Homo sapiens: one gene and its partner. The protein of the gene in region 2 purifies or fractionates together with the protein of the main gene of each other region. This does not show direct contact. Each region holds a gene or a part of one and is shown on either strand. Other genes may lie near its edges.

Region 1 (3,651 bases), on a different chromosome or scaffold from region 2:
AAGTGTTGGAAGGATGTGAAAAACCAGAAGACTCACATATTGCTTTTAGAAATATAAAACGAAAATTTTATATTTCAATATAAAATTCCAAAATTTCCACTTTGGAAAACAGAGTTTAATTTTGTCAAAGGGTTAAACATGGTTACCCCATGACCCAGCAATACTACTCTTCTAACCAAAATAAAGGAGAAACTACGTCTACAGGAAACCTGTATGTGAATATGCCCAGTAGCATCATTCACAATAGACAAAAAGTAGAAACAACCCAAATGCCAATCAACTGATGAATGGATACACAAAATGTGATACATCCATACGATGGAATATGATTTGGCAATAAAAAGAATAAAGTACTGATGCATGCTATGACATGAACCTTGCTGTGTATTTGTTAGTATACCAAATATACTAAGGGGAAGAGGCCAGTAACAAAGGACCACATACAGTATAATTTATGTGAAATGTCCAGAATAGGCAAAATCCTTAGAGGCAGAAAGTAGGTTAGTAGTTTCATAGGGCTGGGAGGATTCTGGGGGTGGGGAGTAGTTTGCATGTATAATGAGTATGACTGGTAAGGGGCATAGCATTTTGGGGGTAATGAAAATGTTCTAAAATTGATTCTGGTGATGGGCACACAACTATATGAGTACACTTAGAGCTATTACATTGTATTCTTTAGGTATGTTCCATCATATGTAGATTATATCCCAATAAAGCTGTTATTACACATAGAGTAAGAAAGAGAGAAGTGAAGTGGATGAATCAAGAATTTAGCAACCACGTTTTGTTGAATGAAAGAGGATGAATGAGTTAATAACTACAGGTGACTAGATTGGTTTTGCGCGTCTTTACAGCCAACCTATCAGAATACTAAAAGAGCAGGGACAGACAAGAGCATCTAGACAGGCTCGTTCCTTACACTATCATCTAGAGAGGGGATCAGCAAACTACTTTTGTAAAGGGACAGAGAACAAATATTTCAGGCTTTACAGAAGACATATAGTCTCTGTCACAAATCTTTTTTTCTTACAACCCCTTAAAAATGTAAAAACTGTCCTTAGCTCCAAAGCCATACGAAAACAGAATACTGGCTGGATTTGACTCACAGGCCAGTTTGGCAACCTTTGTTCTAGAGAGCATATGTCACCTCTTACATACCCTTTTGTGATGGACAGTGGACTAGACCTGACAATGGCTGAGTCAGTAATCTTGCCAGAGATATGGAAATACTTAATTGACAGCTTTAATAATCAATAGAGGAAGATCAAAGAACACGAACGTTGTGAGTGCCATATCCCCCTAGCTTCCTACAGTTTAAAACTACCTGGCCCGAGTCTAACTTCAGTCTTTCTTGCTATAATGTCATGTCTTTTTTTTGCTCTGAAGTCAGAGAAAAGAGTCACCTATCCCCGTATCCCCCAACTCTTATACTCTGGGTCTAAATAACGGGCCCAGAGGCTCATCTCCTGCCCCCCACACTTCTTACCATTAAGGCAGCGCCTACGATACTTATGGTAGACGTGTTGTGTGAAGCCATTTTCCTTGAGCAGTTCATGGGAAGGATGCTGGAACTTGGGCAATGACTGAGGGGTACAGCCATAGCTGCCAACTGTAGGCGTCCCTTCTGAGGGGCTGGAGCTACAGAAACCACAAAAAATACTGTCACCAGGTTCCCCACAGCAGCCCCACCATGTCAGGAGGGGTCCCTCTGATCCGTTCTGTCAGCCAAGATCCATCCTCTCACAGGGTATCAAACAAGGAGGCCCAGTTACGGACCTTTAACTTATATCCATGGGTCTGATTAACTCTGCATCAACTCTCAGAGAGTTTTACAGAGGATACTGAGGCTTACAGAGATTAGGAGACTCATCCAGGGTCATAAGACTATTTAATGGCAGAAACGTGTCCAATGATAAAACTTGAGCTTTTAACCATTTATTAACTTTAAGCATTTAACCTTTTAATGAGCCATCATGGGTCAATCCATCTACAGTGAACCCTTGAACAACATGGGTTTGAAATGCATGGATCCACGCGTGGGTCCACTTATACGCAGATTTCTTCCACCTTTGCCACTCTTGAGACAGCAAGACCAACCCCTCCTTCTCAGCCTGCTCAATGTGAAGACCATGAGGATGAGGACCTTTATGATGATTCCCCTTTGCCACTCGAGAGAGCAAGACCAACCCCTCCTTCTCAGCCTGCTAAACATGAAGACCACGACGATGAAGACCTTTATGATGATTCTACTTCCACTTACTGAACAGTAAATATTTTCTCTTATGATTTTAACTTTTATTTTAGGTTCAGAGGTATGTGTACAGGTTTGTTAAGTAGGTAAACTGTACCTCACTCTCCTCCCTCTCCCCACCAAGTAGGCCCCAGTGTTTGTTGTTCCCTTCTTTGTGATTTTCTTAGTAATATTTTTTATTTAGCTTATTGTAAGAATACAGTATGTAATACATATAATATGCAAAACATGTGCTAATTGACTATATGTTATTGGTAAGGCTTCTGGTTAACAGTAGGCTTTTGGAGAGTCAAAAGTTATACACGGATTTTCAACTGTGTGCAGCTGGGCACCCCACGCCCTTCGTTGTTCAAAGATCAATTGTATATTTTCTTCAAAAGCATGCCTATTTGCAGTCTGTGCCATCTCTGCAGGGAGTAGAGAGCATTGGTCATAGGTAGGTGGCTCTCAAAGCTTGCTTTGGGAAACAGGAAACACACACTGGGGCCATCTTACTGAAATAAATAAAAAAGAGTGTGGGCCCTACCCCAAGAAGCAGGGTCAGCAGATACAGGTTGGGGCCAATAAATATGTATTTTTTTAATTTTTAAAACTTTTCAAGTAGCCTCCCAAGACATAGTAGGCTCAGAGAGACTGCCAGAAATCTGTTTATTCAACTACCTGGCTATTCTTCCTCAGACAGAAAGTAGATAGCCAGGCTTGGAAACCAATTCAGAGATTTTCTCTCTGCATGTATGAAAATCTGGTCTCACGTGACTGCCACACCACTTCTTTAGGAAAAAAGCCTACCCGTCATTCCCAGGTCCTGGGCTGAGCTTTCCACACCACTGGTTTTTTGAAAACCTCTTAGATGAGGGTCCCTTTAATTTTCAGACCAATCTTCTTGGTCCAGTCAATTTCATGGCTCGCCCACCCATCCCATAGGCAGCCTGATCACTCTTCCCCCACTGCCCCAGGTACCTGATGGAAGCAGTACGGGGCCTGTGCTCACGGGAATCCATCACCCAGCCCACATGGCTCTCCAAGGGTGGGTTTGAACTGTGTCTTGTCTTTCTTTTTCGAGGCATCTGCAAAGGTTAGCCCAGGGTTTGTTACTGTTTGTACTCCTACAACTCTGAGGAGCATCAAGCACTTGTAGGACTAAGATGGGCATGATCTCTCACATTTTACAACAGCATTTTCATATTCATTCTCGTATAAAGTTCACAGTGGTGAGCTAGGAACTGGTATGCCTATTTCAAACAGGTGAAGAAATCAAGGTTTGGGAATGCAGTGATTTGCCCAAGGACTCATACCTGGTCAATCCTCCTTAGGCCTTTCAACATGGGGTTACCACTCCCACACCCAGTATATTTTGCAGATGTGGCTACCTAATCCTAGGTAAGCCCACCAGCCTCAGA
Region 2 (3,651 bases):
AGTGGCAGGTTGATCTAAGGTAACCTGCTGTAGAGACCTCCTCTCAGGAGGCCCTGGGTTCTTCTCAGAAATTCAATGTTAGGGGGAGCCCAGAATGGGAGGTAAACATGTCGTTCTGTCTCTTTCGTGCCAGGCAGACCCAGAGGGGCCAGCGCTGTGGTCTGTTCTGCTGCCCCTGGGAGACTGATCTCCTCAGCCTTGTTAAATTACTGACAATACTTCCCGTAAGAGTAAGGAAATCGCCAAGATATTAACCACAGGGGCCAAAGAATAAAGGACCAGCAGCCATCCACATTAGAGCCGGGTCCTGGGGTGGATTCTGGAGGCATGGGTGTTTGATATTTAAGCACGATGTACTTGGCCTTGTCAAGTGTCTGGGGACCATAGAGCCAAGGACCAATGGCTTCCTGGGGATTGTGGGGATTTGCTCCCCACTTTCAGGTTCCATTTATCTCTTCAGAACTTGCAGGGACTTTGTCTACAAAAGATGACTGGAGAGAAGGAAGGAGACAAAGAAGGGTGTTTCTTACGGGCTGGTTGGAGTGCAGCAGGGAGGGGCCCAGGCCACATCTCTCATTCCTGAGCCTCCTGGAATCTACTATGTTTGTAGGTTGGGCTAATGTCTCATTAATAGGCAGAAACAAGTACTATACATTTTAATATTTTAAAGGGTGTATCTCCCAGCTTCTCCAAAAAGCAATCAGTCACCAACAGGGAGATGAACCAGATCTCTAAGGACCTTTCCCCTTCCATGGGATCTCCCAGATTGCTCTGGAGTTGAACATTAGGTCTTTGGCTACAAGTAAAGCTCCAGCCCATTGATTTATTAAAGCAAAAGATCAAGGACACAAAGGGGTATGTGGATGGGAAAATGCCACCACTGTGACCGCAGAGAGGAAGGAAAACACGTACATTGTCTGCTTGGTGCAACGGCCGTAAGCGTGGCATCATCACAGCACCCAGGGGCAAGGTTAGGGCAGTCGAAGGTTATCCAGGCACATGACCAAGGGTCACAGCCAATGCGCACCCCCGCCTCTGATCCTTACCACCTCCACCCCTGAACTTACGTCTTTAGGGGCGTCTTCTTCTTCTTGGCGGGCTTGTTTAGCCCATCCCCGTCCACTCCATTGGCTTCCATAGCACTGGCTGGGATCTCAAAGGAGGCTGGGGATTTAGAAGGTGAGCTGGGGGTCTTAGAGGATGTCTTAAAGGGGTCAACGGACTCATCACAGGTGTCTGGGTCAAAGTTGTATGATTGTTGGGGCAGTTTGGGAGACTCCTGCATTTTTGAGGTGGAAGAAAAAGGGTTAAAATTGGGGTCATCCCACTTGTCAATATCAAAGGTGTAAGTACCTTTAGCAATGGGGATGTCATTGGGTTCAGCAGGGGATCTGGGAGGTGAGGCAGGAGTGTTGTCAAGTTTCTCGGGTGTCTTTTTCATCTTTGGCCTCCTCAGGGGCATTTTGGCAACTGGCTTTTTGCCTATCTTTTTGGTAGGAGGGGGGTTTTCCTGCTGGTTGTCCCAACTACTCTTGTCCTCAGAATAGTCAAACTCCAGCCTTACGGAGAGCCCTTTGGCTGGAGAGTCCTCTTGCCCCCCGCTATCCGATGGGGTTACCTCCCCTGCCTCCGGGGCCGTGGTAAGAGGCAGCGTTTTCCTCCCGACAGGGGGTGAGTTCTGCACTCTGCCACCTCCAGAAGCCGGGGGGACAACCCCTTCTGCACTCTCTGAGTCCAGAGGGCAGGCAGCTTTGGGCCCCACAGCGGGCTCAAGGGGCGTCTCCTCCAATAAGGCTGGGCTAGGACCTTCCGTCTTGGCAGATTCCGTTTTCGTCTCAGATGCTAGATTCTCCCCACTGGGGACAAGGCTCTCTTCATCTGGCTCCTGTTGCGTCTCCTTCACTGGGGGGGTCTCTGTGGGTTTCTTGGTGGTCTGTTTCTTTTTTAAGGAAGGCGGCCTCGGTTTTTTAGTTCGCTTAAGGGTACTAGAAGCACTGCTGGAACCCGTGCTATATGCATCTGGGGCAAGGGCCACGGCCTCGGGATTGCCTGAGGAAGAAGCACCATCAAAGTCACTGGCTTGCAGGCTGAGCGACCGGGACAGTGTAGACTTAGAGATGGGGACGGAATCCGTGGACTTCCTCCGTGTGTTCACTTTGCCCTCCTGATTCTTAGCGTCTGAGGCACGAGGCTCCAAGGTCTGAAAGGTATCCACAAGCTCAATGTTGTCAAAGTCCAAGTTGTAAGTCCCACTGCTGGCTATCGGCTTGTCTTCATCGAAGACGGCAGAGAAGGAGTGTGACGGGGGACGGAAGGGACTTCCTTCCACCGAGTCGCTCCGTGGGCCATCAGGGACAGGGACTGTCTCAGAACCACATCCTGGGGAAACACAGACAACGCCATCAATTACAGACACAGGACGCATTGGGGCACCTCTCCTCTTGTACCAAAACATCACCCTCCAGCGTAGGGGTTGACAAACCACGGCCCCAGGCCACCCCGCCCATCACTGTGTGTACTACTTGGGTACAGAACCTGACCTACCCGTAATTAGCTCAAGACCCAGGCCAGGTTCGCCCAGAGTTCCCTCATCTGTACAATGAGGATCATGAGGACCGATTAAAGAACAGCTCAGAGTATTCATTCAAAAACATTCACCAAGTGCCTAATCAGGACCAGACATGGTTCTAGGTACTAGAGATTCAACAAGGAACAGAAATAGACAAAACCTTTCCCTTCCTGGAAGTCACATTCTTCAGGGGAAGATAGCGAATAAACCACCAGGGCCGGGCATGGTGTCTCACACCTGTAATCCCAGCACTTTGGGAGGCCGAGGCAGGCAGATCACTTGAGGTCAGGAGTTTGAGACCAGCCTGGTCATCATGGTGAAACCCAGTCTCTACTAAAAAAACACAAAAATTAGCCAGGCATGGTGGTGAGCGCCTGTAATCCCAGCTATTCCGGAGCCTGAGGCAGGAGAATCGCTTGAGCCTGGGAGCCAGAGGTTGCAGAGAGCCGAGATTGCGCCACTGTACTCTAGCCTGGGTGACAGAGTGAGTGAGACTCTGTCTCAAAAACAAACAAACAATGTACAGAATTTCAGAGGGTGATACATGCTAAGGAGAAAAATAAAGCCGGGATAGGAGAGTTTCACTTTTAAAATAAGGTAGTCAGGCAAGATCTTCTGAGGAGACATCTAAGCAAAGGCCAGAATCAAGGTAAGTGCATGAAACAGGAGGACTCCTGGGGAGGAAGCATCCTGGGTAGAAGGAATAGTGCGAGTAAAGGCTCTGCGGCAGGAGCACCTGGTGCGTTACAGAAACAGCGAGGAGGCCAGTGTGGCTAAAGCAAGGGTCAAGAGTGGGACAGGAAGACAGAGAAATCCTGCAGGAAGGCATACGGAGGCTTCCATAAATATTCATACTAGCCACGGCCACCAGCAAGCCTGTTCTTGACTCCTCAGAGCCACTGTGAAGATCAGGGGAGCCTGTACACGGAGGCCCCCGGCACCTGTAGTAGCACTTGCTGTCTGCCACCTGCCGCTCCAGCCATCACCTGTAACCTCTCCTTCAGTCCTGCCTGCCTATCCTTGGCCCTGCCTCTTGCCTAGTCTCACTGCTCTCCCAGCTGCCTCCTCTCAGCTTTTCTACC

Evidence for each region. Proteins that work in one complex are often made in the same cells at the same time.
Region 1: the proteins of TACC2 (region 2) and LARP1 fractionate together in Homo sapiens (co-fractionation; one large-scale study listed by BioGRID). This does not show direct contact.

The regions. Positions count from the first base shown.
Region 1 is NC_000005.10:154,803,868-154,807,518, reverse strand, and holds part of LARP1 (la-related protein 1), read right to left. Parts: intron 3,319-3,651; coding exon 3,212-3,318; intron 1,639-3,211; coding exon 1,487-1,638; intron 1-1,486. UniProt on the Homo sapiens protein: RNA-binding protein that regulates the translation of specific target mRNA species downstream of the mTORC1 complex, in function of growth signals and nutrient availability.
Region 2 is NC_000010.11:122,209,125-122,212,775, reverse strand, and holds part of TACC2 (transforming acidic coiled-coil-containing protein 2), read right to left. Parts: intron 2,903-3,651; exon of another isoform or gene 2,807-2,902; intron 2,380-2,806; coding exon 1,068-2,379; intron 1-1,067. UniProt on the Homo sapiens protein: Plays a role in the microtubule-dependent coupling of the nucleus and the centrosome. Involved in the processes that regulate centrosome-mediated interkinetic nuclear migration (INM) of neural progenitors.